4 linked regions of the Homo sapiens genome follow. The protein of the gene in region 2 interacts with the protein of the main gene of each other region in a biochemical or structural test. Each region holds a gene or a part of one and is shown on either strand. Other genes may lie near its edges. The genes, in order: YWHAG, RIPK2, BIRC2 and BIRC3.

Region 1 (7,929 bases), on a different chromosome or scaffold from region 2:
ACTGCACAATACAGTACTTCTGTCCTGGTTACCCACAAAGAACTATCATTCTGCACAGATCCCAATAGTGTTAGCACTAGGATAATTTCATTAAACTCAAATAAATTTTAATCCCTTTATCAACAGGATGATTTCGGCCTTAAAAGAGAGCTCACTTGAGTGGTAAGATTGGTTTCTTTCTCTGCAGTTTCCAAATTCTCCACGATGACTTTTATAAACAGGAAGAAAATTTCTTAGGTAGTTGCCATTTTGGAACACCTACTACATTTCTTATTGAATCCGCACAACTTTTTCAAGTATTGTCCCATTTTACAGATGAGGAAAATGAGGGACAGAGCCTATTTCCTTAAAGTCACAGGAAACAGATTTGAAAAAAGGTTTTTATTTTACAAACTGTTCTTTCCTCTATACTGTGAAGGAGCAGAAGCACAAATCTAGTAAAAAACAAACTTCCCAAATCTCAACTTAAAAGGTTTTGGAACGGGTTTTCATTCCCTACTAGTAACTGAAAATGACTCAGTAGGAAGTCATCATTTTTTTAAGGTTTTTATTAAAACCTGCCAAATTAATTATCTGCAATAAACACAAGTATACATCCCATCTGTGCACTAGTGTCATAAACTATATTCTTGTTTAAAATTTCTTTTATTCCATAAATTATCGTTTAAAATTTCTACTTTTATTCCATCATTGCCCAGTATTTTAAATAAATGAGATGAATGTTTAAAAATATAAAAAAGCATCTTATAAACTTTTGTGAGAAAGCTAGCAATAGGGTGAACAAGGCCTAGCTAGAGGTCACAGATTTGCATGTCTAAGGGTAAATGATATCCTTATTTTTTGGACTAATTCTCATCTAGTGGAATATGAAGTGCTCGATTCCACCTGGCTTATCGGCTAATTTCTGCATTACCTTGGATAAATGCCATTTGCACACTCCCTACCAGCCCTTAGGTGCATTGCAGCCTCTGTGTCATTGTGTGTGACATCACTTGGTTGCTATGGATATAGGTGCGAGGTCACTCGCTTTCCTGTGGAACTAGAAATATGGAAAAGAAATATGGAAAAATTATAAGAGTCTAAATAACACGAACTGAAGATATTTCCAATACTGATACCTATTAGAAGTGCAACTTACATCATTTAAGCATTAAAACCTTGTAAGACAGCAACTGTGGCCACAGCAGTATTCCGAATTTCAGAATCAGTTCTCTTCAATAAGACAAAAACCTTTCTTTGTTAACATAGCTGCTTTAAATATAAAGGTATCAGCATTGTCCTCTTTTGAGAACCAGTAAATTTATTCAAGAATTGATCTGTAATATCAATAATGCTTCATTTAAAAGATGTAACACGCAAGGTACACTCCAGCATCCACTTCACAATGGAGATGAATTTGAAAATCTTTGTTACATAAGGCAGGAAATTAAATATTAAGATAGTGGGGGCCCGAAATCATTAGATTAATTTTCTACCTTTCATTTCATAATGCTCAATACTTCCCCCTCCTCTAATATCAAACTGGTTGACAGCCCATTAGATAAATGTGGTGTTACTGACAAAATGGTGCAATACAGGGATGAATCTGCAACCCAGACAAAATGCGACAACTGGCGATCGGTATTCTCTTTTCATCAGCATGAAGATGTACTCGCTTAAACAAAAAAAAGCCTCAGATGCATCTAACAACCAAAAATTTTTAAAAAGACTTTTTCCCCTTTAAAATAACTCCTCCCAGCCTCCACCCAGTCTAGGCTCTCTGCAATATGACAAATGCAGAATCTTCTGGAATGACTTGATACTGCCTCTCACCACGGCTTTGTTTGCACTATCAGATCAGACAGAATATTTTTTCCCCCAACTTATAGGAATTTCAACAGACGCGTGCCTGTATTCAAAAAAGAAACGGCATATGTCACACGAATCGAACCAGTCAGCTACATTCACCACCTTTTAATTTTACAGGCAATACCTACCCTTTTCAATACAAAAACATTAGGGAATAAAATGGAGATGACATGTTGAGAATGATCAATGAAAACGCTAGCGAGACAAACGTTCTCCCTTCCTAAAAGCCGGAGGACTTGCTTTGGGCGAATGGAGAAAGAAGAGCCTTTTGTTAAGAAAAACGTGAGCAAGGTGGTTTCGATTTTGCACCACGGAGCTCAGGTTTTCAAGAGACCCTATACAATGTTTCTGGGAAGATTCTCAGGGATGTGTCGGGACAGACAGTGGGGAAGATTCTGGGGGGGCTGGGGAGGTGGAAAACCGGGAGACCTGCTGAGTGAATGGGAAAGGCGCCGCCCAGACACCAGGGAGAGAAAGAGGAACCGCATCCATGCGGTCCCCCGCCCCCACGCCCAGGCTAGGAGGAGGGGGGAAGTGGGGCACAAAGGATGCGCACGCCTCCCCGCTCGGGTCCCCTGCACCCCTAGAGCCGCGGGGGCCGGAGACCCCGCTCCCAAGTCCAGCCCCGCGGGACCTCGCCCCGGCCCGCGCCCGCGCCGGGCCTGAATGGCAGCGCCGCGGGGCCACGGGGACTCCGAAAAGAGGCCGCGTCACAGCCCGGGTTCCCGTCGCCTCTCGGGACCCTCCCCAGCCCCCCTCAGTGAGCGAGACGGGGCGGTCAACCCGCCATCGCGACAGGGCGACGAAGCCCCGGGCCTTCCACGCCAAGGACCGCGTCTTCGGAGGGGCAGGGAGCGGCGGGGGAGGGGAGGAGACACTCACGTTCTTCATGGCCGCGGCCATGTCGTCGTAGCGCTCCGCCTGCTCGGCCAGCCGGGCTTTCTGCACCAGTTGCTCGCGGTCCACCATCTTCGCGGGGCTGGGTCTGGCCGGAGAAGGAGGAGGACACTGGGGCGGCCTGAAGGGCTTGGAGGGCGCGACTGGAGCCCAAGTGCCGGAGAGGACCGACCCACAGAGCGAGCAGCTGAGGCGGCGGCTGCGCGGAGGAGGCGGCTGGAGCTGCGACCGCGGGACCGGGCGCGAGGCGGCTGCGGCTGCTGTGCGTGCCACTGACGGACAACCCCCTGCGGCCCCGCCCACGCCGCATGACGAAGGCAGGCCCCGCCCACCCGTCCGCAAGCCCCGCCCATGCCCCGCCCGAGCCCGGCCGCGGCTAGAACTCCCCGCTCCCCAGCTGGGCTCACTGCGCGTCTTCCGGGCACCCCGTCCTTTCCCACTGCGCCCCCACTCTCCCCTTTTTTCACTTCACTCCCCAGTTCCCTCACCCCAGCTTCTCCAGTCGCCCCCTTACGCCTCCCCCTTGAGCCTCCCGCCCCGCCAGCCCTCGGACGCATGGGCCCCTGGGAGTTGTAGTGTAACCTGCAGTGCACTGAGGCGCTGAGGAGACCAAGGACAAAGGGGCGGTCAAGACTACAACTCCCAGCGGACATAGCGCGCAGGCGCAGGAGGACGGGGGGGGGTGCTTCGAATCCCGAGGCCGCTGGGGACCCCTGGCGGGGATCAGGGCTGCATCAGTCCCTGCGAGTGCTGATTCACCGCCCCGCCCCATATTCTCCGGGAAATTACGAGAGGAGGGGGCAGGGGCCTCAGTCCTAGACCCTGTTTCCGAGATCACGTAGCAGGTCGTGGTGGGGGAAGGACAGGAGGCGCGTCCATTGTAGATCCAGACTCTCAGTGTGGTGCCTGCCCGCGGGATGGCCGAATTAAGGGGCCAGACCCTGGGGACTGTCACCTCCACCCCCTACGAGCTTCCATTAAACCCCCCACCCCACCTTGAGGCTCTTGGGCCTGAATAGGTGAAAACATGGACGAACGACAAATACCGGCTGGCCACAGTGGTTGATTTCCAGAAAGGATGCAGCTGTCTGCTGGCTGACCCTGGAGAACCCCTTCTTCCTCTCCAGGGTGGAGTGCTAAAGATTGAGTTCAGCTACCAGGAGCCTACTCCACATCTAACTGGGCTGCGTCTAGGGCTTGGTTGTCCAGCCCTTCTCTCCCCTCCTAAGACATACATACCTACTGAGGTCACGCTGATATATTCTCGTTCATATTATTCCACATAGCTTGCAGATAGCATGGGTTTTTTTGCTTTGTTTTGCTTTTTTGTAGAGACGGGGGTCTAGCTTTGTTGCCCATGCTGGTCTCGAACTCCTGGGCTCAAGCGATCCTCACGCCTCGGCCTCCCAAGGTGCTGGGATTACAGATGTGAGCCACCATGCCTGCAGGCCTGATAGTTTTGACTGCACATTTTATTTACTTTATGTATTCAACAATTATCTATGAGAAGCTACTGTGTTCCAAGCCCTATTCTAAGCCACGAGGTACAGTAGTGAACAAAACAGACAAAAATCCCTGCCCAAGAAAATAGGTGAGATATGTACAGTATGCTAGAAGTCAGTAAGGAGTGAGTTTTGAGGTTGCAGTGAGCTGAGATTGCGCCACTGCACTCCAGTCTGGCGACAGAGCAAGACTCCGTTTCAAAAACAAATAATAAAATAAAAAGTTTTTTAAAGGCTGGGCACGGTGACTCACACCTGTAATCCCAGCACTTTGGGAGACCGAGGCGGGCGGATGACAAGGTCAGGAGATCGAGACCATCCTGGCCAACATGGTGAAACCCTGTCTCTACAAAAAATACAAAAGAACTAGCTGGGCGTGGTGGTGCCCACCTGTTATCCCAGCTACTCGGGAGGCTGAGGCAGGAGAATCACTTGAACCCGGGAGTCGGAGGTTGCAGTGAGCTGAGATCCCTCTACTGCACTCCAGCATGGGTGACAGAGCGAGACTCCGTCTCGAAAAAAAAAAAGAAGTGAGCTTTGGCCTGGCACGGTGACTCACACCTGTAATCCCAACACTTTGGGAGGCCGAAGCGGGTGGATCATCTGAGGTCAGGAGTTCGAGACCAGCCTGGCTAACGTAGCAAAACCCCATCTCAACTAAAAATACAAAAATTAGCTGGGTGTGGTGGTGGGCACCTGTAATCCCAGCTACTTGGGAGGCTGAGGCAGGAGAATTGCTTGAACCTGGGAGGTGGAGGTTGCAGTGAGCCGAGATCGTTTCATTGCACTTCAGCCTGGGCAACAAGAGCGAAACTCCATATCAAAAAACAAAACAAAAAAAAAGTGAGCTTTGCAGACTCTGCTGCTGCCAGGAGTACTCTACTACTGGCCATGGTCAATCCCACCGTGTTCTTTGACATTACTATTGAGCCCTTGGGCTGCGTCTCCTTCAAGGTTAGGGGCATGGAAACCAAGAAGCCAAGTGACCTCTCCGGAGCTTGCAGTGAGCCGAGATTGTGCCAGTGCACTCCAGCCTGGGAGACAGAAAAAGACTCCGTCTCAAAAAAAAAAAAAAAAAAAGAAGTGACCTCTCATCTAAACTGTAAAGCCATGTTAACATATCGGAGCTGTTAGCAGACAGTGTTGTAAAGACAGCAGAAAACTTTCGTTCTCTGAGCACTGGAGAGAAAGGATTTGGTTATAAGGGTTCCTACTCTCTCTTTTTTTTTCTTTTCTTTTTCTTTTTTTTTTTTTGAGACAGAGTCTCGCTCTGTAGCCCAGGCTGGAGTGCAGTGGTGCAGTCTTGGCTCACTGCAACCTCTGCCTCCCGGGTTCAAGCGATTCTCCTGCCTCAGCCTTCTAAGTAGCTGGGATTACAGGCGCGCACCACCACGCCCAGCTAATTTTTGTATTTTTAGTAGAGACGGTGTTTCACCATGTTAGGCTGGTCTCGAACTCCTGACCTCATGATCCATCCGCCTCAGCCTCCCAAAGTGCTGGGATTACAGGTGTGAGCCATTACGCCCGGCAAGGGTTCCTACTTTCACAGAATTACTCCAGGGATTATGTGTCAGGGTGGTAACTTTACACACCATAATGGCACTGGTGGCAAGTCCATCTATGGGGAGAAATTCGATGAAGAGAACCTCATCCTGAAGCATACAGATCCTGGCATCTTGCCCATGGCAGATGTTGGACCCAACACAAATGCTTCCCAGTTTTTCATCTGCACTGCCAAGACTAAGTGGTTAGATGGCCAGCATGGAGGTCTTTGGCAAGGTGAAAGCGAGCATGAATATTGTGGAGGCCATGGAGCGCTACGAGTCCAGGAATGGCAAGACCAGCAAGAAGATCACCATTGCTATGGCCGGGCGCGGTGGCTCACGCCTGTAACCTTAGCACTTTAGGAGGCCGAGGTGGGCAGATCACTTGAGGTCAGGAGTTCGAGACCAGCCTGGCCAACATGGTGAAACCCCTGTCTCTACTAAAAATACAAAAATTAGCTGGGCGTGGTGGTAGGTGCCTGTAGTCCCAGCTACTCCAGAGGCTGACGCAGGAGAATCGCTGGAACCTGGGAGGCAGAGGTTGCAGTGAGCTGAGATTGCACCATTGCACTCCAGCTTGGGCAAAAAGAGTGAAACTCCCTCTAAAAAATAAATAAATAAATAAAATAAAATCACCATTGCTGACTGTGGACAACTCTAGTAAATTTGACTTGTGTTTTATCTTAACCACCAGACCATTCCTTCAGTAGCTCAGGAGAGCACCTATCCATCCACCCCATTTGCTCCCAGTATCCTATCATCTTTGTGTTCTTGCTACAGTTCCCTTTGAGTCCCATGATTTTCTTATTCCCTTCCATGTCTGGGTGGATTGCAGAGTTAAGTTTGTGACTATGAAATAAAAACTAAATAACAACAAAAAAATCAATAAGAAGTGAAAAATAAAATAGGAAACATGAAGTGTGGATGAGAATGTGGAATGAAAGAGTTTCCATGGGGGAATATTGCAGGCTCTATGCCAGATGCTGGAGGACCCCTGTCCTCAAGGAATTCAGAGTGTGTTAAGCACTGTAAATATTTTGTTTAAAAAATAACTTCTTTCAGGCTGCATAGGAAGAGATTCTGAAAAGCTTCTCCAGGGAGTTTGGTAACATTTCCAACCCAGCCTTTAAATGAGTGTAGGATTTGAGAGCAGGCAAAGGCACAGGTAGCAAGACTCAAAGGCAAGTTCCTCCCTGACTTATTTATTTATGTACTTATTTTTTAGAGGTGGGGGTCTCACTATGTTGCCCAGGCTGGGGTACAGTGGCACGATCATAGCTCACTGCAGCCTCTAATTCCTGGGCTCAAGTGATCCTCCCACCTCAGCCTCCTGAGTAGTGGGGACTACAGGCATGCACCACCACACCCATCTCCCCTGAAATATTTATTGATAGGCAAAGAATCTGATGTATCTGGTGTCTGGGTGATGGGTAAGGGGCTGGGGATAGAGTCAGGGGCCAGAACATGAGGGGCACTGAATGGCAGCCCCAGGAGTTAAATTTCTATTCTGAAATTAATCGGAAGCCTGTGAAGAGATTTTAACAATGGCAGAAAATGATCAGATTTGGGTTTTGTCTTTTTCATCCTCACCTTGGCTTCTCAGTGCTCAGCAGAGTACCTGGCACATGATAAGTACATAGAGAGAGAATAGGAAATAAATAAATGAATATGGCCAGGTGCACTGGCTTACGCCGGTAATACCAGCAGTTTGGGAGGCCGAGGTGGGCTCATCACCTGAGGTCAGGAGTTTGAGACCAGCCTGGCCAACATGGTGAAATGCTGTCTCTACTAAAAATACAAAAATTAGCCAAGCGTGGTGGCGTGTGCCTGTAGTTTCAGCTACTCGGGAGGCTGAGGCAGGAGAATCGCTTGAACCCAGGAGGTGGAGGTTGCAGTGAGCCAAGATTGTGCCATTGCACTCCAGCCTGGGCGACAGAGTGAGACTGTGTCTCAAAAAAGAAAAAAAAAAGAAAGAAAAACAAGAAATGAATGTAGCTGTAGTCCTAGCTACTCAGGAGGCCAAGGCAGGAGGATTACTTGAGGCCAAGAGTTCGAGACTAGCCTGGGCAACATAGCAAGACCTCATTTCTACAAAAAAAAAAAATTTAAAAATTAGCTGGGCATGGTCATCACAGCTA
Region 2 (7,681 bases):
GGGTAGAAAGAATGCAGGCTTTAATGTCCCATGATTGCAATTCAAATCTGACGCCAACCCTGCCACTTATTAGTGTGACCATTAGAAAAGTATTAATTTTTCTGAGCCTTAGTGCCCTCATTTATAAAGTGGAGCTAATGAAACTATGTTTAGAGGGTGATCTTAAGATGCTAGTGCATATAAAGTGACTGACATGTAATAGGGTCACAGTGGAAAGAAGAATGCCTCTTAATGGGAGGAGGAAAGAGTGTGTGAAGTGTCACTGAGACTTCTGCAGCATGCACTCTCTATTGTTCTTAGTATCCAGGAATCTTCAGGGTCATCCTCTATTGTTGGCCTAAATCTCTTGGGGCAGATATGGAACTATTTCCATCTAGGGAATAAACATTTAATTAAAATGGGTCTCACAAACTGATACTGGTTTCCTAGCAGTTGGAGTATTAAGTGATTGAAGGACAGAGAATGAGAGAAGCTTTTCACTTTATGCCTTCTTGTTACTCTTGAATTTTAAGACATATAAATATATGACCTATTCAAAAAATAAATGACGAAGATTCTTTTGCTTTGTTTTTTTGTTTGTTTTTAAAAGTAGTCCTCTTAGTCTGGTCTAGAATGTCTGTTGCTATTCATATTTCAACAGCCATTCATTCAGAGCTTGGGAGGTGTAAGAACTAACTTATCATCATTACTTACCTAATAGGCTTCTCCTGGAAACATTTCTATTTCTGTCATTGCTGCAGCCAACATCCAGTCACTCAGGGTAAAAAAATAATGACATCTCCAATTCCTTTTCATTTTTTTTTTAACCCCCTACAGTCAGTCACTACAACGCGGGCATTCTATTCACTTAGTGTTTTTCTTTCCATTTCCACTGCTACCTTTGTAGTTTTAGGTTCATGTATTAACTGGTATTAAAATCTCCTAACACCTGACTTTCAAACTCTACCACTTTCTACTAATCCTACATCTTGTTGCCAAATTGATCATCTTAAAATTGTATTCTACTGTCATTCCCCAACTCAAAAACTTTCAGTCACACCAGGTACATTGGCACACCCCTGTAGTCCCAGCTACTCAAGAGGCAGAGTAGGGAGGGCCAGTCTGGGCGACATAGCAAGATCTGGTCTGTTAAAAAAAAAAAAAGTTTCCAGTGTGTATTCTGTATGTTAAAAAAAGCAAACAAACCGTCAATCACTTAGTGACTGCTAAGTGAAGTTTCACCACCCTAACCAGGCTTTAAGACTGAGATATGTCCCTAACCTGTCTTATTCACCTTCACTCCTTTTATATTACATAAAAGGAGTGCATTAAACAATTCACAATTTCCCAACTTTAGCCTTCCCTTTAATTTCCTTGAAATCATTTGATACCTACCTATTGGACGTCTGATACAATTGAGCCCAGGAGTTTGAGGCCACCCTGAATAACATAGTGAGACCTTGTCTCTACAAAAAAAAAATAGGCACGGTTGCATGCCTGTGGAGCTAGCTGGCTGCTGGGGAGGCTAAGGTGGGAGGATGGCTTGAATCCAGGAGTTTGAGGCTATAGTGAGCTGTGATCACACCACTGCACTCTAGCCAGGGTGACAAAGAAAAATAGAAAAAAAAATAGTTAAATATATATTTGTTTTACATATGAATAAACAAATGAACCTGGGAGCCAGTTACCCCAGCAGTCTATTAATATTATTGAGCATTTACCTGTTCTCAGTGATCTTTTCCTGAGTTCTGGTATATAATTTATAAATATTACTGACTTTTATGCAGCTATTGAATCTATAACATTTAAAGGTTTTAATATTCAGGATATTTGGAAAATGTTTATATGGTATGCAACCATAAAATTTAATATAATATTCTAATAAAACATGCTCATTTGAATACAATGTAAACTTAATCATGTAATTAGTTCAAGCACCAATTGTTCTAACATAGATAGACTTTATAAATTTAATACTATGTTCTTTCCCATTCCTGGGATAAGTACAATAATAATAAACCTGTGTTTAGCACTTTTACCTGTCAATGGCTTATAGAAGTTAGTTTGGTCTCTAAACAGACCTGTGGAATATATAGGGTAGGTATTATTTCTATTTTAAATATGATGAAACTAAGGTGCAGAGAAGTTGCATAATTTACATGAGGTCACATAGCTAATTAATGAAAAAAAATCCAGGCTTAGTCTTATAGGCATGATAATTGTATATTTTTTTATTACTTGAATAATTATGCATTTTTTTTTCTTAGTGAAAGAAAGGATGTCTTAAGAGAAGCTGAAATTTTACACAAAGCTAGATTTAGTTACATTCTTCCAATTTTGGGAATTTGCAATGAGCCTGAATTTTTGGGAATAGTTACTGAATACATGCCAAATGGATCATTAAATGAACTCCTACATAGGGTAAGTATTACACAGTTTTAGTGGCCATAATTGCCATTTTTACTATTCAAACTATATTTTACTTTGATTTTATATTTGGTCAGATTATTTAGGGGTATATAGATGAATCAAAGAATAATGAAAAACTATCACAGGGATAAAATTTTACCTTTTGTGACATTTTTGTGTTGATTAAAACACTGTGGATTCAGGCCCTGTACTCTAGATTATTTTGCCTGGGTTACCATTCCTAACATTTATACCAAATTATAGTATTTACATGCATATTACATGGGTAGAAATGGAAGAGATAAACTCTGCATACTGTAAAATCCACTGTTAAGTGATATTTTATTTTATATTAATAGCAATTTCAAATTCAAATTTAATGTTATTAATACCAGTTCATAAAGTTCTGAATTAGCAGGCCAAATATTAATAAATTATCTCTGAATACCAGATACATTAGCTTTTCTAATAATAGACAGTGGTATCAGCCATTTACCCTTTTTCCCAAGGTACCAGTCACTCTCTCTTTGATTATGAATCCCTTGAGTAAACAAATTCAGGGGTCCTCATTCTCAAAATACATGTATTCATTATTAATATTATCATGAGTCTGTAGTTTCAGTAGATCTTTTTAAACTACTTGGTCCATTTTTTGAGGGTTGGCTTAATTAAAACTGTATTAATCTACAAAATCCAATCAATAGATACTCATAAATGATAGTGTAACACAATGCCCTGTAAGTGGCCAAGGGAAAGTGGGTGCCACTGTCAGTCAGTCATAGAGTAACTTCCTCTCAGTTTCAGAATACATCACATTCTATTCATGACTTGTGACCATTTGAAACAAGGATGGAATAAGTAACTGGTGTCAGTCTGTAAGATTTGTATAACTACCACAGAGCCAAGATACAAATATTAATAAATCACAATTTCTCTTTTATTTTTGTTGAGAAATGAGTATAAGTAGAAATCTAACATTTTCTTCCCACACCCCAGCAGATACTCTGGCACCCAAATTTGCAGCTCGCTGGAAATTCTACAGCCTCCTCAAGGGGGATTGCTAACTCCTGGAAAAAAAATCATAAAATATACAGTGAGCACTTCTCTCCCTTGTCTCCATGATCACAAGCCCCCATATTATATTATGCTGCAGAGAGGCCTGGTAACTGCTTTAAACTGCATAATTTTCAGAAAAAGTTACCTTTTTTACAGATTAAAAGATTAAGTTTCTCTAGGGGACAGGCCTCTGTGTATGCCAGAGAAAGTAATGTTCCACGTCAGCTTTTTGTGTTTCTTTTGGTTTCCTGTATTGCATTATTTAGGGTGGGATTTATCTTGAAGTGCCCTCCCCCAACCTCACAAAATTCATTGAGAAAACTCAAGATGTATCATAAACAGTCTAAAATATTTTGAACCACTCCCCCTGCCAGATTGATCACTGAACTATAAGCTGACGCATTTGCAGAAAAACTTCTCAAGAACAGTTTTGTACTTTCAGTAGAAGCAGTCTTTTTCATAGCATTTAGAAAAATGTGGTATGGTGCCTGGTGATTCATCGTGGATCTTCCCAAATTGCCTGATCTTCCAAAGTATGTTCATTCTCCTGGGAAGCCACATTAACTTTTATGTTCAGAAAACATTTATTTTAAGAAAACTCAGATGGATATTATTTGAGTACTATGAAAAATAAAATGTTATGTTTTAAATGTGTCTGTTCTATACAGTTTTAGAAACAAAAATGAGTGTCCCTTCCACAAAAACAAAACAAAAGGCTAATTTTATAAGCTGGAATGCAGATAAATTAATTATATGATTAAATGTATGATAAATTAATGCTTAGTCAATAAATACAATATGATCATAATTTGTAACTGATGCAGTGATTATAATGTATGATTTTATAGTAATAGAAAAATTAAAATACAAATTTTGAATGAATGCCTTGGTATTTACTAGAAAAAAACTGTCTGTAATTTTGTGTGTATTTGTGTGTACTCAAATTACCTGATTAAGACATAGAATGAGGAGGTGGATGTGGGTGTAAGTATATGACTCTGGCTATATACAGATACAAAGTAATTGAGATTTGTGTCAGCTGAAGAAAGACCCAAAACCATGTAGTTGCATGACCAATATAAACTAAAAGGAAGTATTGGTGCCATAAAGTTATCATAATTTTCTCTATAAAGTGAGGAAAGTAAGACACAAAAATGTTAAACCCTATCAAATTGGTGCTATTTTATAAAAATGAGCATATGTTTTAACCTTAGTTTATACTGTATTTCCTCATGGAATATTTAACTTTCTAAGTGTGAAACATAGTGAAATTTGGACTAATTTCATTTTCTTTCTTTTCACATATATATGAAGAAAACTGAATATCCTGATGTTGCTTGGCCATTGAGATTTCGCATCCTGCATGAAATTGCCCTTGGTGTAAATTACCTGCACAATATGACTCCTCCTTTACTTCATCATGACTTGAAGACTCAGAATATCTTATTGGACAATGAATTTCATGTTAAGGTAATTACTTTTTTAAAAAGTTTATGTTTCCTTGTCCTTATAGTTTTAAAAATACTTTTTAGTTATTTCTTCGACCTAGCCAATTTCATGTCTCTCCTTAGAGATAGAGACTAATGAATAGTAATTTCCATAGCCCCTAATTTCTATCTTCTATTCTCCTTCTTCCTACTGCAGTTAGGAAGTTATTCCTAGACAGAGATAGAATTATGGTACAAAATACAAAGCCATTATGTTTCTTAATTGAATTGTCAAGATCACCTTTTTTTTTTACTTTTTATTTTAAAATTATTATATATTTATAGGAAGTTGCAAAGGTAATAAAGAGGTTTCATGTATCCTTCACCTGGTTTCCCACATTGTTATATCACACATAATTATAGTATAATTTCAAGACCAGGAATTTGACATTAGTACAATGTGTGTTCATAGTAACCGCAACAATCAAGGTACAGCACTACTCATAACATCACCACAAAGATAACACTCATCCTACCTCACCCACTTCCTCCCTACCACAATCTGTACCCCTAACAACCACTAATCTGCTTTCCATCTCTTTAATTTTGTCATTTTGAAAATGCTATATAAGTGGAATCATATAGTATGTGATATTTTGAGATTGGCTTTGTTCACGTCACATAATGCTCTTGTGATCCGTCTAAGTTGTGCTTGTAACAATAGTTGTTTTTTATTGATAAGTAGTATTCCACAGTATAAATGTACCAAAGTTAACCATTCAGGAACATTTTGGTTCTTTCCATTTTGGGGTAATTATTTACAAAGCTGCTGTGAACAAAGCTGTACAGGTTTATGAGTGAACATAAGTCTTCATTACTCTGTGATAAATGCCCAAGAATGCAAATGCTGGGTCATATGGTAAGGGTGTGTTTAGTTTTTAAAGAAAGTATCCAACTATTTTCCAGAGTGGCTGTACCATTTTACATTCCACCAGCAATGTGTGAGAGATCCAGCTATTCCGCATCATTTTCTAAAGGGATTCTTTGGTTTTCTTACTGTTGAGTTTTGAGAATTCTGTATATGTTACAGTAGTAGTTCTTCATCAGATATGTAGTTTGCAAATATTTCCTCCCAGTTATAGTTTATCTTTTCATCCTTTTAACAGGGACTTTCACAAAGCAAAATGATAATACCAAATGCCCACCAGCATTTGGTATTATCACTGTTTTCTGTTTAGCTGTTCTAATAGATGTGTAGTGATATCTCATCTTGGTATTAATTTGCATTTTCCTAACTGCTAATGATATCGAACACCTTTTTATATGCTAATTTGCCACCCATACGTGGTTTTCAGTGAAATGTCTCTCATGTCTTAAGCTCATTTTCTAAAGGGATTCTTTGGTTTTCTTACTGTTGAGTTTTGAGAGTTCTGTATTTGTTACAGTAGTAGTTCTTCATCAGATATGTAGTTTGCAAATATTTCCTCCCAGTTATAGTTTGTCTTTTCATCCTTTTAACAGGGACTTTCACAAAGCAAAAATTTTAATTTTGATGAAGTCCATATTTTTTCTTCTATGGATCATGCTTTTGCTGTCATCTCTAAGCACTTTTCACCAAGTTCTACTTACTGAAGATTTCCTTTTTTGTTATCTTCTGTAAGTTTTATAGTTTTATGTTACATATGTAATCTGTGATCCACCTTGAATTCATTTTTTAATAAGATGCAGGACTTAAGTGCTGAAGACACTGGCTATTGTGATTTCACAGCTATACTATATCTAACTGAGTGTAAATAAAAAGTAGTTTTTGAGTAATTAATACTAAATGTAACTCACCATATTTTTATGTATCATTTTGCTATACTTCTTTTAATAACATGTAATCAGAAAATTATTATAAATATAAAAAATGTTCAAAGAAATCAGTAATAGAGAAGTTGAAACAACAGGGAAATTAAAACAAGAAATGTGAGAGAAAATAAGTGGGAAAAATTTTTATTGAAGACACTCCTCTCCTTAGAATAAAGTGGTAGGGGAAAGGAGAGAGAAGCAAGCTGCTGCCTCAGTATTGCTAAGAAAAAAAGAGACTAATCTATTCCATCAATTATAGAACCATCAAGTAGAAATACCTTAATGGTCAACTAGTTCTCTGATACTTCACTGCAACAATCCCTGTCTCCCAAAGCAGTTATCCTGTAACAGGGAGTCTTAACATCCTTAATTGAATAATTGTGACATTTTCTTAAATGATCAACCAAAATTCCTTCCTGGTTGCTTCCACACATTGATCCTAGTTCAACTTTTTGTGATAAACAGAATAAATCCAATTTAGTTACTTCAGCAAGACAGCCCTTTCAATATTTGAAGATAGCTATGAGCTGTCTCCCAAACCCTCACGTACAAGTGCATTTTATCCATCTCCCTGATAAATACCCTTTAGTTCCTTCAACTCGTTTTCTTATTACATGGATTTTAATCCTTGGTGCTATGTAGATGCATCATTTTGTTTAAATCTCACTTAAATGTTGATCGTCAGAACTGAACACAATACTATTTTTGGTGCGGTTTGATGAATGCAGACTTTAGTGAAAGTGTCATTTCCTTGGCCCTAAATACTTAATAGTTCCTTAATAATTCATCAGCTTTCCAGGGGTAGTCATATCACATAGTTCAAATTGGGCTTAGTGTCAACAAAAAACCCTTGGAGGTTCTTTTTGCCACGTATCGTTGCTTAAGCCACCTCTTCTTAAGCAACAAAGTACACAAAATAATGTACTTTGCAGAATACTTTCTAGATATGATCAAATTTT
Region 3 (7,681 bases), on a different chromosome or scaffold from region 2:
AGAAGAAGAAAGGAAGAGGAGGAGAAGAAGGAAGAGGAGGAGGAGGAGGAAAGAAGGAGGAAGAAGAAAGAAAAGGGAGGAGGAGGAAGAAGGAAGAAGAGGGAGGGAAGAGGGAGTAAGGAGGGAGGAGGGGGGAATACTTCCAAACTCATTTTATGAAGCCAAGCATTACTCTGATACCAAAGCCAGACCAGGACAACACAAGAAAAGAAAATTATATGCCAATAGCCCTGATGAGCACAGATGCAAAAATCCTCAACAAATACTAGCAAACCGAATTCAGCAGCCTACTAGAAGAATCATATATCAAGTGAGATTTATCCCTGAGATGCAAGGATGGTATGACATATGCAAATCAATAAATGTGATACCACACATTGACAAAATGAAGGATAAAAATCATATAACCAGCCAGGTGCAGTGGCTCACGCCTGTAATCCCAGCAGTTTGGGAGGCCAAGATGGGTGGATCACCTGAGGTCAGGAGTTTGAGACCAGCCTGGTGAAACCCCATCTCTACTAAAAATACAAAAATTAGCTGGGTGTGGTGGCATGCACCTGTGGTCCCACCTACTCGGGAGGCTGAGGCAGGAGAATCACTTGAACCCAGGAGGCAGAGGTTGCAGTGAACTGAGATTGCATCACTGCACTCCAGCCTGGGTGACAGAGCAACACTCCATCTCAAAAAAAAAAAAAAAATTAATAATAATAATAATAATATAAACATCTCAACAGACACAGAAAAAGCATTTGACAAAATTCAACACCCTTTCAGGATAAAAATTCTCACCAATTTAGCTATAGAAGGAATATACCTCAACATAAGGACCATAAATGGCAAGTGCACAGTTAACATCATACTCGATAATGAAAACCTGAAAGCTGGCCGGGTGCAGTGGCTCACGCCTCTAATCCCAGCAATTTGGGAGGCTGAGGCAGGTGGATCACGAGGTCAGGAGTTGGAGACCAGCCTGGCCAACATGGTGAAACGCCATCTCTACTAAGAAATTACAAAAATGAGCTGGGTGCAGTGGCACGCACCTGTAATCCCAGCTACTCGGGAGGCTGGGGCAGGAGAATCACTTGAACCCAGGAGGTGGAGGTTGCAGTGAGCTCAGATTGCGCCACTGCATTCTAGCCTGGGCAACAGAGCAAAATTCCATCTCAAAAAAAAAAAAAAAAAAGCTTTCAGCTTTTCCACTAACATGAGGAACGAGACAAGGGTGCTTACTCTTGCCACGTCTATTCAATATAATACTGGAAGGGTTAGCCAGAGCAATTAAGCAAGAAAAAGAAAAAGGCATCCAAATCAGACTGGAAGAAGTCAAACTCTCTGTTTGCAGATGACATAATCTTATATATATAGAAAACCCTAAAGATGCCACCAAAAACAGTTAAAACTAATAAACCATCCAGAAGTTGTAGGATACAAAACCAACTTACAAAAGTCAGTACTAACAATGAACTATCTGAAAGAGAACTTAAGAAAGTAATCCCATGTACAACAGCACCAAAACAATAAAATACTTAGGAATAAATTTAACCAAGGAGGTAAAAGAGAAACACAATGAAAAACATATGACACTGATAAAGGAAACTGAAAATGACAGAAATAAATTTTTAAACAATCTCGTGTTCTTAAATTATAAGAATATTGTTAAAATGTTCATACTACCCATAACATTCTACAGATTCAATATAATCCCTACCAAAATTCCAATGACTTTTTTATCACAGAAATAGAAAAACCAATCATAAAATTTGTACGGAACTTAAGGCCCAGAATAGCCTAAGCAATCTTGAGAAAAAACAAACAAAAAAAACAACTGGAGGCATCATACTTCCTAATTTCAAGCTATATTACAAAGCTACAGTAATCAAAACAATATGATACTAGCATAAAAACAAAGACATACACCAACAGAACAGAGAGCCCAGAAATAAAGCCACATATACAATCAATTAATCTTTGACAAGGGCACAAAGAACACACAATGTTGAAATGATAAGTCTCTTTAACAAACGGTGTTGGGAAAACTGGATATCCAACACCGTTTTTATGTAAAACAATAAAACCAGACCTCTATCTTATACCACCTACAAAAATTAACTAGAAATGGATTAAAGACTAAACATAAATCCAGAAACCATAAAATTCCTTAAAGAAAACGTAGGCTAAAAAGCTCCTTGGCACTGGTCTTGGCAATAATGTTTTGGGTATGACACCAAAAGCACAGGCAACCAAAACAAAAATAAACTGCGACTACAACAAGCTAAAAAGCTTCTGCTCAGCAAAGGAAACAATCGACAAAATAAAAAGGCAACCTACAGAATGGGAGAAAATATTTGCAAATTATACATTTGATAAGGAGTTAATATCTAAAATATTTAAGGAACTTATACAACTCAATAGCAAAAAAAAAAAAAAAAAAAAACCCAAATAATTCAGGTTAGAAAACGGGCAAAGGACCTGAACAGAAATTTTCCCAAAGATATACAAATGGCCAACAGGTACATGAAAAGGTGTTCAATGTCACTGATCATCAGGGAAATGCAAATTAAAACCAAAATGAAATATCACCTCCCACCTGTAATGATGCCTTATTATCATCGGAGACAAGAAATAACAAAAGTTGGCAAAGATGTGAAGAAAAGGGAACCCTTGACCATTGTTGGTAATTTACTACTGTCATTATGGAAAACAGTATAGAGGTTGCTCAAAAAACTAAAAATAGAATTAGCATATGATCTAGCAATCCCACTTCTGTGTACATATCTGAAGGAAATGAAATCAGTATCTCAGAGATATCTCTACTCCCATGTTCAAGCAGCTATATGGAAACAACTTAAGTGTCTACTAAGGGATGAATGGGGGATGAGCCTGGCTGGGCGTGGTGGTTCACGCCTATAATCCCATCCACTCCGGGTGGATCACTTGAGATCAGGAGTCTGAGACCAGCCTGGCCAACATGGTGAAACCCCGTCTCTACAAAAACAGAGTAATTAGCCGGACATGATGGCAGGTGCCTATAATGTCAGCTACTCAAGAGGCTGAGGCAGGAGAATCGCTTGAAGCCAGGAGGTGGAGATTGCAGTGAGCCTAGATGGTGCCACTGCACTCCAACCTGGACAACAGAGTGAGACTCCATCTCAAAATAAATAAAATAAAATAAAATCCTACCATCTGCAACATGAATGAACCTGGAAGGCATTATGCCAAGTGAAATATGCCAGAGAAAGACAAATACAACTGGCCCTTGAACAACACAGGTTTGAACTGCACATGTCCATTTACACCCAGATTTTTCTCAACCAAATGCAGATCACATTTGCAGATGTGAAACCCACATATTTGGAGGGCTGAATTTTGGATGCACAGGTTCTGCAGAGTCAACTTCTGGACTTCAGTATGTGCGAATTTTGGTATACATGGGGGTCCTAGAACCAGTCCTCCGAGCATACCAAGGGACAACTATACTGTATGGTAACCAAACTCACAGAAACAGAGAGTAGAATGCTGGTTGCCAGGGATAAGGGGGTAGGTGAAATGGGAAGATGTTGGTTAAAGAACACAAACTTTCTGAGGATCTAATGTACAGCACATGGTGACTATAGCTAATAATACTGGACCTTATACCTGAAATTTGCGAAAGAGCATCTTTTAAGAGTTCTCACCAAAAAAAAAAAAAAAAAAAAAAAAGAAAGTTACTACATAAGGTGATGGATTTACTGAGATTAAAGATTATTCCCAGTTGAAATGTGGGCTGGGCTCAGTGGCTCATGCCTGTAAGCCCAGCACTTTGGGAGGCCAAGGCAGGCAGATCACTTGAGGTCAGAAGTTTGAGACTAGACTGGCCAACATAGCGAAACTGCGTCTCTACTAAAAATACAAAAACTACTGAGTGTGGTGGCGTGTGCCTATAATTCCAGCTACTCGGGGGGCTGAGGCTTGAACCCAGGAGGTGGAGGTTGCAGTGAACTGCCATCTTGCCACTGCACTCCAGCAGTGATAGGTGATGGAATGAGACACTGTCTCAAAAAAATAAAAAAAAGGAAAAAAGAAATGTGTTGTTTTCAGAGAAGCATTTACAAAACACGCCCCTACATCTTCTCCCTTAATCATTTAAAACAAAACACAAGTTACAAAAATAAAGATTTTGATTTTGTTTTATAAGGTACAAAATGTAGCAGTTCCAACACTGGAATTTGGAAGCTGTTTTTGTCTTTGATACCACAACATGGATTAAATTTCAAATTAATGTATATAATCCCATAGAGCCCAACATAATTAAGTCATTTAAAAGTCTGATAAAACATGCTTTTTAATTTTAAACATAATTAATAATTTAGTCATTTTTCAGTGTAAAAAAGTCAAAATTTATCTTGATATATTATTAATATTAATAACTTTAAAATACAACTTTTAACAATGTACTGATCCATAATAAAGTATTTGTTACTTCAAGTTTCTTTTTCATCATATATCATACAAAATGACGAAAACTTTTTAAATTTCCTGAAGGGGTTCAAGAGATTCTTCATTATTGTGAAAGACACTCACAGGTAAAAACATAATCTGTGATGTATGATTCCACTTATATATGATGCCTAGAGTAGTCAAATTCATAGAGACAGAAATAGAATGGTGCGGCAGGGGGCAGTGGCTCATGCCTGTAATCCCAGCACTTTCGGAGGCAAAGGTGAGCAGATCACTTGAGCTCAGGAGTTCAAGACCAGCCTGGCCAACATGGTGAAACCCTGTCTCTACTAAAAACCCTGTCTCTACTAAAAATACAAAAAAATTAACCAGGCATGGTGGCAGGCACCTATAATCCCAGCTACTCAGGAGGCTGAGGCAGGAGAATCGCTTGAACCTGGGAGGTGGAGGTTGCAGTGAGCCAAGATCGTGTCACTGCACTCCAGCCTGGATGACAGAGTGAGACTCCACCTCAAAAAAACAAACAAGGGCTGGACGCGGTGGCTCACGCCTGTAATCCCAGCACTTTGGGAGGCTGAGGTGGGTGGATCACGAGGTCAGGAGATCGAGACCATCCTGTCTAACATGGTGAAATCCCATCTCTACTAAAAAGTACAAAAAATTAGCCGGGCGTGGCAGCGGGCGCCTGTAGTCCCAGCTACTCGGGAGGCTGAGGCAGGAGAATGGCGTGAACCCGGGAGGTGGAGCTTACAGTGAGCCGAGATCGCGCCACTGCTCTCCAGCCTGGGTGACAGAGTGAGACTCCGTCTCAAAAAAAACAAAACAAAAAAAAAAAAAAAGAGAAAGACAATGGTGGTTGCCAGGATGTTGGGGAATGGGATAATGGTGAATTAGTACTTGATGGGTAGACAGTTTCAGTTTGGGAAGATGCAAAGGTTCTGGAGATGGATAGCGGTATAATCGCAGAACGGTTAAGAATGTACTTAATGACACACAACTATACACTTAAAAAATGGTTAAGATGGTAAATGTTATGCCTATTTTATCACTATTTTAAAAAATTATCTAGGCCAACCCCTCCTCATTTTACAAACAACGTCCAAGTTCACATAGCTACTCAATTACAAAGACAATTTAATTCTATTTCTACTAATAACACTGCCCCTAAATTATTTCTAGGCTATAATAAAAAAAGACACTGCTAGAGACAAAGTGGCTAAAAGGAGGTAAATGACAAAAAAAAATTGTACAGAAAAAATAATTTACAATTACAATTAAAATGGGCAGTCAGATATGCTTTTTTCTTTTTTTTTTTTTTTTTTTTTTTGAGACAGAGTCTTGCTCTGTTACCCAGGCTGGAGTTCAGTGGCACAATCCTGGCTCACTGCAGCCTCCGCCTCCTGAGCTCAAGCGATTCTCCTGTCTCAGCCTCCCGAGAAGCTGGGACTACGGCCACGCGCCACCACGCCCAGCTAGTTTTTGTATTTTTAGTACATACGGGGTTTCACCATGTTGGTCAGGCTGGTCTCAAACTCCTGACCTCAGGTGATCCACCTATCTCGGCCTCCCAAAGTGCTGGGATTACAGGTGTGAGCCACCACGCCCATCTAAGATATGCTCTTAATACATGGACTTTTACATTTGACTTATTCCTGCATCCATTCTATGTCCCTTCTTGTTTTCCTGTTCTTACCTTTTTCTAACGTCTTTTTAATCTATTTTATATGTCTTTGTAATCCTTAAGTACTCTTTAAAAGAAATGGGAAATAAATAAAATGTACGGTCATACTTGTAACTGACTTACAAAAGTACACAGAAGACTGCAGAATATTTTTCAACAAAATAATTAAAGTTAAAATGTGATCTTTTAGAAGGATAATTCCCCAATGGCATAAAAGAGGCTTTGTTATAATTTAAAGGTAAACAAAATCATGTAGGCATGCCTACTTCTTTTAAGCACAGAGTTTTTTGTACAAATACCTTTTTCAAAACAATTACCTTGGAAACCACTTGGCATGTTCTACCCATGGATCATCTCCAGATTCCCAACACCTCAAGCCACCATCACAACAAAAGCATTTGACATCATCATTGCGACCTTCAGGAAAAAAAAGACTAAATATTGAAAACACGTATGTTCTAATATGTAAATTAAAATAAAATGATAAAATGTATAGTTATTTGCTTCTTACCCACATAATAAAAACCAGCACTTGCAAGCTGCTCAGGCTGAACTGGAACACTAGATGGCCAGTACATAAATGTTCTCATTCGAGCTGCATGTGTCTGCATGCTCAGATTTGAAATGCTAAACCTCAGAGTTTCTAGAGAATTTTCCAAAAATGGACAGTTGGGAAAATGCCTCCGGTGTTCTGACATAGCATCATCCTTTGGTTCCCAGTTACTGAGCTTCCCACCACAGGCAAAGCAGGCTACCCTATCTCCAGGTCCTATATAATAAAAACCAGCTCTTGCCAATTCTGATGGTGACAAAAAAGTTAATGGCCACATATGGTAGGTAAGAAATCTGGCTTCTTCAGTACTCATTGCATAACTGTAGGGGTTAGTCCTCGATGAAGAGATGTCTTCAACTGCTCTAGAATTAAGAGGGTTTGGAGAAAGGCTGGAGTAAGAACCACTGAACAAGCTACTATGTTCCAAGGTGGGAGATAATGAATGTGCAAAACTGTTTCTCATTGGAGACGTATTCTTAGAGGTGGATCCCAGACTAGCTGAAACCAGATTCTGAATAAAGCTACAGCTAGGATATAGCTGTTTATGCTTTTGAATAGGACTGTCTCCTAGTTTCCAGTTATCCAGCATCAGGCCACAACAGAAGCATTTGACCTTGTCATTCACACCAGTATAATAAAAACCAGCACGAGCAAGACTCCTTTCTGAGACAGGCACCCCGGCGGGGAAAGTTGAATATGTAGACATTCTGTAGAGTTCACAGGAAAAGTCATACTTCATTTTTTGTTTGTTGCTGTTTGTCCAATCTGACAAGATCGTGCTATCTTCCATTATACTCTTAATGTTTTGATACGAGGGACCTGGGAAAAGTCTTTGGGAGGCAGTTTTGTGCATGAGTAGGTGACAGTACTGTTTGATAGCTAAAACATTCACATGAAATTTCTTCACATGAACTAAGATTTTTACCACAAAAAGAAATCAATGATAGACTCTTATGTAGAATTTACTACACTTTCTTTACTGGATTTATCTCAGTTTATATTCAGGTAGG
Region 4 (7,681 bases), on a different chromosome or scaffold from region 2:
TCTGGTTGTTTGCCTCAAATCACAGAATCATTTAAGATCATTTATTCTAAACTTAATGTTAGAAGAATAAATACATCCTAGCCCACTGGGAACTGATTCTATTGTATTGCTTTTAAAAAAAAAACTTTTTTTCTAAAACTAACCCATAGTTATCCTATGACAGGATTCAAATTTTTTGTGTGAATTTTTAATTGTTTTGTAAGATGCTTCTCATGACAGTCAACATTTTTCATACAGGTTGAATGTTTTACAAAATTAATATTTTTATATTTGCCAAGATACATTATGCTTCTGCTAATTTTTTTTTTTTTAGACAGAGTCTCGCTCTGTCACCCAGGCTGGAGGGCAGTGGGATGATCTCAGTTCACTGTAACCTCTGCCTCCCAGGTTCAAGTGATTCTGGTGCCTCAGCCTCCCGAGTAGCTGAGCTTGCAGGTGCCTGCCACCATGGCCGGCTAATTTTTGCATTTTTAGTGGAGATGGGGCTTTACCATGTTGCCATACTGGTCTCGAACTCCTGACCTCAAGTGATCCTCCTGCCTCAGCCTCCCAAAGTGCTGCGATTACAGGCATGAGCCACTGCACCCGACCACTTCAGCTAATTTTGAAAAGTTCTAAAGGTTTATCTTAATTTGGGCAGGACTAATCCAGCCATTTGTAGACTGGCTATTTCAAGTGAGTATAAACATACATATAATCAATTTACTCTTAATATATTGTGAAGTATAAATATTTCAAATGAGTATAAATGTACATATAATCAATTTACTATTCATTTAGCATATAGGGAATGGTCAGAGATATTGCAGTGAAAGGCAGGTTGATATAAGCAAGAGGAAGGTGATTACTAGTTATCTACCAAGGCTCAAGTGGACAAGGGTCAGGAGCCCCTCAGTCTACTGAGGTCAAGTAAGACCATCTCTCCTCAGAGCTCTTAGCTACTCTCTTCAACTCTTCTAAGATTCTTAAAACACACTGATGTTGGCCGGGCAAGCACCTCAAAGTCCTGAGGTCAGGAGTTTGAGACCAGCCTGGACAACATGGTGAAACCCTGTCTCTACAAAAATACAAAAATTAGCTGGGCATGCTAGCGTGCACCTGTAATCCCAGCTACTAGCGAGGCTCGAGGCATGAGAATTGCCTGAACCCAAGAGGCGGAGGTTGCAGTGAGCTGACATCACACCATCGCACTCCAATCTGGGCAACAGAGCCAGGCTCCATCTCAAAAGAAAAGAGGAAAAAAAGTAATCAAAATAAGTTAAGATGCCACATTTATTAATCGATATTAACCCATTTCCCATTTAGAAAAAAAACAGTGCAGCTTGTTGCCAGTGCAGTATTCTCAGGGCAAATGGGAAACGGGTTGAATAATAGCAAAAGTTTTGACCATGAAAAAATGTAATTGTAGGCCACATGATTTAGATGAAAAAGGAGAGTGTAAAAAACTTTTTGAAGCTGATATTTTAGTTAGTACATTAAGTTTCTTACCCACGTGATAAAAACCCACACTTGCAAGCTAATCAGGATTAACTAGAACACTAGGTGGCCAGTTAAACAATCAAAAGGGTAACACATCACATTAAAATGCTGCGTGGCGACTAAAACAGATGAGATGAGTCTATACTTACCCTGACCACCCAATTTAATATTGTAACCTGCCTGGCATTTCTAAACTCCTCTTTGTTCTTTTTATTGATTGTACTTATTTTCCAACATGCTATAGAACTTATTCAAGTTTTTATTAGTTGTCTGTTCTCTCGTGCTATAATAAAAACTTAGGAGACCAGGGGTCTTTGTTTTGTTCAACTGATTTTATGCACCCAGAACAATGCCTGCCAATAGGTGATCAATTATTATTGAATACCGAATGAATGGAAATATATCCAAGACAAATGTTGACTGAAAAAACTTCAAAACTAGATATAATATTTAACTTATGTAAAATGGTGTACATTTATTTCTATATGTATATGTATTTATTTCTATATGTATATGTATCATATACATTTATTTCTATATGTCTGGAGGGATGTTCACTAAAGTGGTAACCATGCTCATCCTTAGGCGGTAAGATTTCTGGACATTTTAATTTTCCTTCTCTGTGCTTTTCTACAATGTGTGACTTTGTTTTTATAATGAGCATGTATTATTTAAATATATATATATTTCTTTAAAAATTAAACAAAAATCCCCAAATCTATTTCTTCGTTGTCTTAAGTCCATCGAAACTTTTTAAGTAAGTATTTTACTAAGTAATCCATCCTAAACTTATTCACAAATATATATTTGGAACAGAGTAAAGTAACAACTGATTTCAGGTGAACACATATAAGCAATCTCATGATAATCACAAGAATTTGCAAAGAGAATTTCAAAACAATTACCTTGGAAACCACTTGGCATGTTGAACCCATGGATCATCTCCAGATTCCCAACACCTGAGTCCACCATCACAGCAAAAGCATTTGACATCATCACTGTTACCTAAAATTAATTTTAGACCAAAACTTATGAATACACATAATTTGCCCACTAAAATGTATAAAATGAAATATATTTTTTTTAATTAGCAGATTCAGTTTCTTACCCACATAATAAAAACCCGCACTTGCAAGCTGCTCAGGATTAACTAGAACACTAGAGGGCCAGTTAAAGAATGTTTTAAAGCGGGCTGCATGTGTCTGCATGCTCAGATTAGAAACTGTGTATCTTGAAGTGTCTTGAAGCTGATTTTCTATAAATGGGCATTTGGGAAAATGTCTCAGGTGTTCTGACATAGCATTATCCTTCGGTTCCCAATTGCTCAATTTTCCACCACAGGCAAAGCAAGCCACTCTGTCTCCAGGTCCTATGTAGTAAAAGCCTGCTTTTGCCAGATCTGTTGGCGACAGAAAAGTCAATGGCCATGTCTGAAAAGTAAGTAATCTGGCATTTTCGTTATTCATTGCACAGTGGTAGGAACTTCTCATCAAGGCAGAAAAATCTTGATTTGCTCTGGAGTTTACAGGATTTGATGGAGAGTTTGAATAAGAGCCACGGAAATATCCACTGTTTTCTGTACCCGGAAGTAATGAGTGTGTGGAATTTGTTACTGAAGAAGGAAAAGTAGGCTGAGAGGTAGCTTCCAAGTTGTTAACGGAATTTAGACTCTGAACGAATCTGCAGCTAGGATACAACTTTTTATGCTTTTCAGTAGGACTGTCTCCTCTTTTCCAGTTATCCAGCATCAGGCCACAACAGAAGCATTTGACCTTGTCATTCACACCAGTGTAATAGAAACCAGCACGAGCAAGACTCCTTTCTGAGACAGGAACCCCAGCAGGAAAAGTGGAATACGTAGACATTCGGTACAGTTCACATGACAAGTCGTATTTCAGTTCAAACGTGTTGGCGCTTTTCATCAAATTTGATAAGAATATGCTGTTTTCTACTATGTTCATAATGAAATGAATGGGGAAGAAAAGGGACTAGCCTTTCTCTAGGGAGGTAGTTTTGTGCATGGCTTTGCTTTTATCAGTTTTAATACTAGGCTGAAAAGCCAAAATGAAAAATTTTTTATTATTTTTATTTCTATGCATTTAGAGTTTCAACATGGAGATTCTAAATCCTATACTGATACATTTTAAGGAAGAAATACACAATTGCACCTTTGTATAATCTTTATACATACAATGTAAACATGATGCTACAGAGTAAGCTGTGTTGAAAATTAAAACCCTTCACAGAAGAGTGATGTGTATTAAGCCATCAGGATGCCATTTAATGGCAGGCATCTCCACAGGTAGGTCAACTTCTCCAGGCTACTAGAATGTTTCAGTGGCATTCAATCAACCCAAAGATGTAATGTGTGACTCATGAAGCTTCTTTTCATGGTGGAAAGCTCTGCTGTCAAGTGTTTCACAGCAAAAATATTCAGAATATGTTTATTTTGCTTTTTGGAAATTGTGAAATTTAGTGGCCAGGAAAAAAAAGCACAAGACCTAACTCAAAGGAGGAAAATAATACATTACCATATTTCACTGATTCTAAGATGGCTATTTTAAAACTTCTGTTATCAAGAAGTATTTCATAATTAATGACATCATATTTTAATTAGAAGCACTTTTATTTCTTAGAGGTACGTAAAATAATGGTAAGATTTACAACTGAAGACATTTTGAATTCAGTGAAATATGATATATCCCCAATTTTTCTCCAATTAGTCATTTTTTTCTTTCTACAATCCTTCTAATAAGGAGAACAAAACAATCTAAAATTTCTCTCCAAATAAAGAGATTTACTAGTAACAGGACTGGCTAACACATCTTAAAACCTGGTTTCAATATTAATTAAATAATAGTTATTTCCCATAGATCATCAGGAATATGATTGCTTAAGTATAATGATACTATTAGATCTTACACAATTAAATATTCTATTTAAAATAAATAATCAGAGATTAATGTGTTTGTTCATTTGGTCTTTTGGACTCAGTTTCATGCTGTTGAAGCAACTCAATGTTAAGTTTTTTTATTCTAATAGTATACTTGGCTAGAACATGGAAATGTCCTCTGTAATTATGGTAGACAACAGGTGCTGCAAAAAGAGACTCTGCCCAAACTACCAATAACAAAACTGAACTTCATTGCTATATTCAGGTTACTTTTGGAAAAACAGAATCATGATATATATTTCATTCCCTTTGTTAAAAATTTTCTTAAGATAATTTAGATATGGCTGTAAAATAAGACCTTTCAAAGATTTTAAATTTTTTGTCCCCCTCAAAGAACTAACATTGTAGAGTTATTCAACTTATCACCTCCTGAAAACATTTTTGAACTTTTGTTTTTCTAAATGTTTCTGAAGCCAACATCAAATCTACTCTGATAGTGGATTTATTTTTTAAAACAGTCAAAAGTTACCAGATGCCATCTGTAGGCTAAGATGGATAATCAAATTGCATCAATTTAGTTTTGGTCAGAAATTATTTCATGGATAGCATACCTTGAACCAGAATTTATCATGACAAAAAAAATAATAAATTTACCATTTCAACAGCAGAGACCTTGTCAAAATTCAGAATTTCTCAATTATGATTTACTAGCCATTAGTAAAGAGGTTCTGAGTCGATAATACTAGCAATGACCAATAAGCAAGTCACTGTGGCTTTTTTTTTTTTTTTTTTTTTTTTTTACCAGTGGTTTGCAAGCATGGTTTCCTGGATCTCACAGACGTTGGGCTTTTCAACTGCAGACTTCAATGCTTTGTTTCCAGGTGGCAGGAGAAACATCACATCTCATTACCAACAATTATTTCCCTCAAAGGTAAGTAATTGTATCTAACTTCAATATTCCTTTCCCTGGCCAAAAATTTTACACATTGTTATAAAAATCTTCTTTGTATTCATCACTGTCTTTATATTAATTTTCTAAGTTTCTTCATTTCCTAAAATGTAACCTTCAACCATCATTCTCATCCTCATCATTCTCAGCGGTAACAGCCCATTTAAACAAACTTTTGGACGTTTAAAATATCAGTGGCCTTGTAAATAACTGGATAATTTCTTGACCAATCATCACATTTATCTTTTTACTTCCTCTAAATTTGTTGCACATATCAAAAAGCTTTGTTCTTGATTTTTCTTTGTCACTGTAGAAGTATTTTAATGTGTCAAAACTTTCATCTGCATGTTTCTTTAATTTGCAGTGGATTGATTATTAGCTCTTTGTTCCAAATAACTGTCACTCATTTTAAAATCTTTCCCAAACACAGGTACTATTTCTATTCTACATAATGGGAGAATGTGCCAGTAGGAGACTGCCTGGCCAACTCTGAAAAAAATGCTTTAACAATATGCCCCAGCTAGAATCACTTTTCCTTTATTTCCACAAATCAAATTCAAAATCAAACTCATTATGGTATACCTTATATAACTCGATCATGTTTATAAAATTAGCATTCTTTGGATAGTAAAACACCAGTTAATACTTAATTTGTTTACCCATGCACAAAACTACCTCCCGAGATTAGACTAAGTCCCTTTAAGGATTTTAGGTCTCCATTTTGAGATGTTTTGATTTATAGAAGAAACTGAAAAAAAAATCTAGAAGAAGTCGTTTTCCTCCTTTGTAAACCTGTTCAAAAACAAACAAAAAGACAGTTTTAAAACTCAAACGACTCATGGATGGAACACAATGACTTTTTAAAAAATCATTTTCTCCAAAATAGAGTACTAGTAATTACTGATCGTTTACCATGTATCAGGTGCTTTACTAGGCACTGTAGAGGCCAAAAAGAGATAAAAAACAGAGGCCTCTGCCTGGTGCAGTGGCTCACGCCTGTAATCCCAGCATTTTGGGAGGCCAAGACAAGTGGATCACTTGAGGTCAGGAGTTCAAAACCAGCCTGGCCAAAATGGTGAAACCCCATCTCTACTAAAAATACAAAAATTAGCTGGGTGTGGTGGTACGCGCCTGTAATCCCAGCTACTCCGGAGGCTGAGGCAGGAGAATCATGTGAGCCTGGGAGGTGGAGGTTGCAGTGGGCCGAAATAGTGCCACTACACTCCAGCCTGGGTGACACAGCAAGACTCTGTCTCAAAAATAAAATAAAATAAAATAAAACCCAGAGGTTTCAAACTGGAAGACATATTATGTTTGGCTTACATAGAATTGCATTATAGTTCTTTACTAAGTTTTTATTTTTATTTTGAAATTTATTTATACTTAGAGAAAGCTTACAAAAATAATAGTTTCTGCATACTCTGCACTTAGCTTCCCCAAAGCTAACATCTTACCTAATTACAGTGCAATTAAAGAAACCAGAAAATTCACATTGTACCATGCTGTAGATTAATCTGCATGCCTCATTTGAATTTAATCCAGTTTCCAAATCCATTTTTTTCTTGGACCACAGTATTTTTAAATCTTACCATTAATTGCCAACATGTTTAAATGTAAGAGACTTCCCATCACATTCTAGATTCCAAGCTTCTCTTGAAACATCAAAAGATCTAGCAACACTGGGCCTATAGTCCTGCAGGGCAGCAATCAGCTAAAGCTGAGCAGCAGCTGTGCCCTTTAGAGAGGGAACATGTTCTCTTTGATTCCCTGACACTGGGACTGACTGTTCTGGTAGTCTCCACTAACAGTAACAGTCTAGCAATAACAGACTGTTGCTATTTGTCATTGAACTGGCACTATTGTTTTTCTTACAGCAGAATTATGAGAAAGTGAAATCAATGTAACACATGTGTCCATCAAAAGTAACAAAAATGAAAAGTAGAGAAAAAGGACATATGTTTTGAGAAAAATAGGATAATTTTTGTCTTTGTGGAAAGGAAGGATATTCCTTCATATCAAATACGTAAACAGAGTATGCTTTCATTTAAAAGAGACACCCCACAAGGCCTCATGCCATGGCTCACTCCTGTAATCCCAGCACTTTGGGAGGCTGAGGTAGATGGATTGCTTGAGCCCAGGTGTTTGAGACCAGCCTCAAACTGGGTGACTTGGCAAAACACCATCTCTACAAAGAAACTCAAAAATTAGCCAGACATGGTGGCACCTGCCTGTGGTCCCAGCTACTTGAGAGGCTGAGGCAGGAGGTTCACTTGAGCCCATGAGGCAGAGCTTGCAGTGTGAGACTGCATAACTGCACTCCAAACTGGGTGACAGAGCAAGACCCTGTCTCAAAAAAAGAG

Evidence for each region.
Region 1: the proteins of RIPK2 (region 2) and YWHAG form a complex in vitro, tested with the Homo sapiens proteins (one study listed by BioGRID).
Region 3: the proteins of RIPK2 (region 2) and BIRC2 form a complex in vitro, tested with the Homo sapiens proteins (4 studies listed by BioGRID, with this or other methods).
Region 4: the proteins of RIPK2 (region 2) and BIRC3 form a complex in vitro, tested with the Homo sapiens proteins (2 studies listed by BioGRID, with this or other methods).

The regions. Positions count from the first base shown.
Region 1 is NC_000007.14:76,355,992-76,363,920, forward strand, and holds the start of YWHAG (14-3-3 protein gamma), read right to left. Parts: upstream 3,001-7,929; 5' UTR 2,818-3,000; coding exon 2,731-2,817; intron 1-2,730. UniProt on the Homo sapiens protein: Adapter protein implicated in the regulation of a large spectrum of both general and specialized signaling pathways. Binds to a large number of partners, usually by recognition of a phosphoserine or phosphothreonine motif.
Region 2 is NC_000008.11:89,760,583-89,768,263, forward strand, and holds part of RIPK2 (receptor-interacting serine/threonine-protein kinase 2), read left to right. Parts: intron 1-2,246; coding exon 2,247-2,400; intron 2,401-4,758; coding exon 4,759-4,914; intron 4,915-6,426; exon of another isoform or gene 6,427-6,527; intron 6,528-7,681.
Region 3 is NC_000011.10:102,349,698-102,357,378, reverse strand, and holds part of BIRC2 (baculoviral IAP repeat-containing protein 2), read right to left. Parts: 5' UTR 7,525-7,681; coding exon 6,630-7,524; intron 6,536-6,629; coding exon 6,436-6,535; intron 1-6,435. UniProt on the Homo sapiens protein: Multi-functional protein which regulates not only caspases and apoptosis, but also modulates inflammatory signaling and immunity, mitogenic kinase signaling, and cell proliferation, as well as cell invasion and metastasis.
Region 4 is NC_000011.10:102,320,269-102,327,949, reverse strand, and holds part of BIRC3 (baculoviral IAP repeat-containing protein 3), read right to left. Parts: intron 6,114-7,681; 5' UTR 3,441-6,113; coding exon 2,588-3,440; intron 2,485-2,587; coding exon 2,385-2,484; intron 1-2,384. UniProt on the Homo sapiens protein: Multi-functional protein which regulates not only caspases and apoptosis, but also modulates inflammatory signaling and immunity, mitogenic kinase signaling and cell proliferation, as well as cell invasion and metastasis.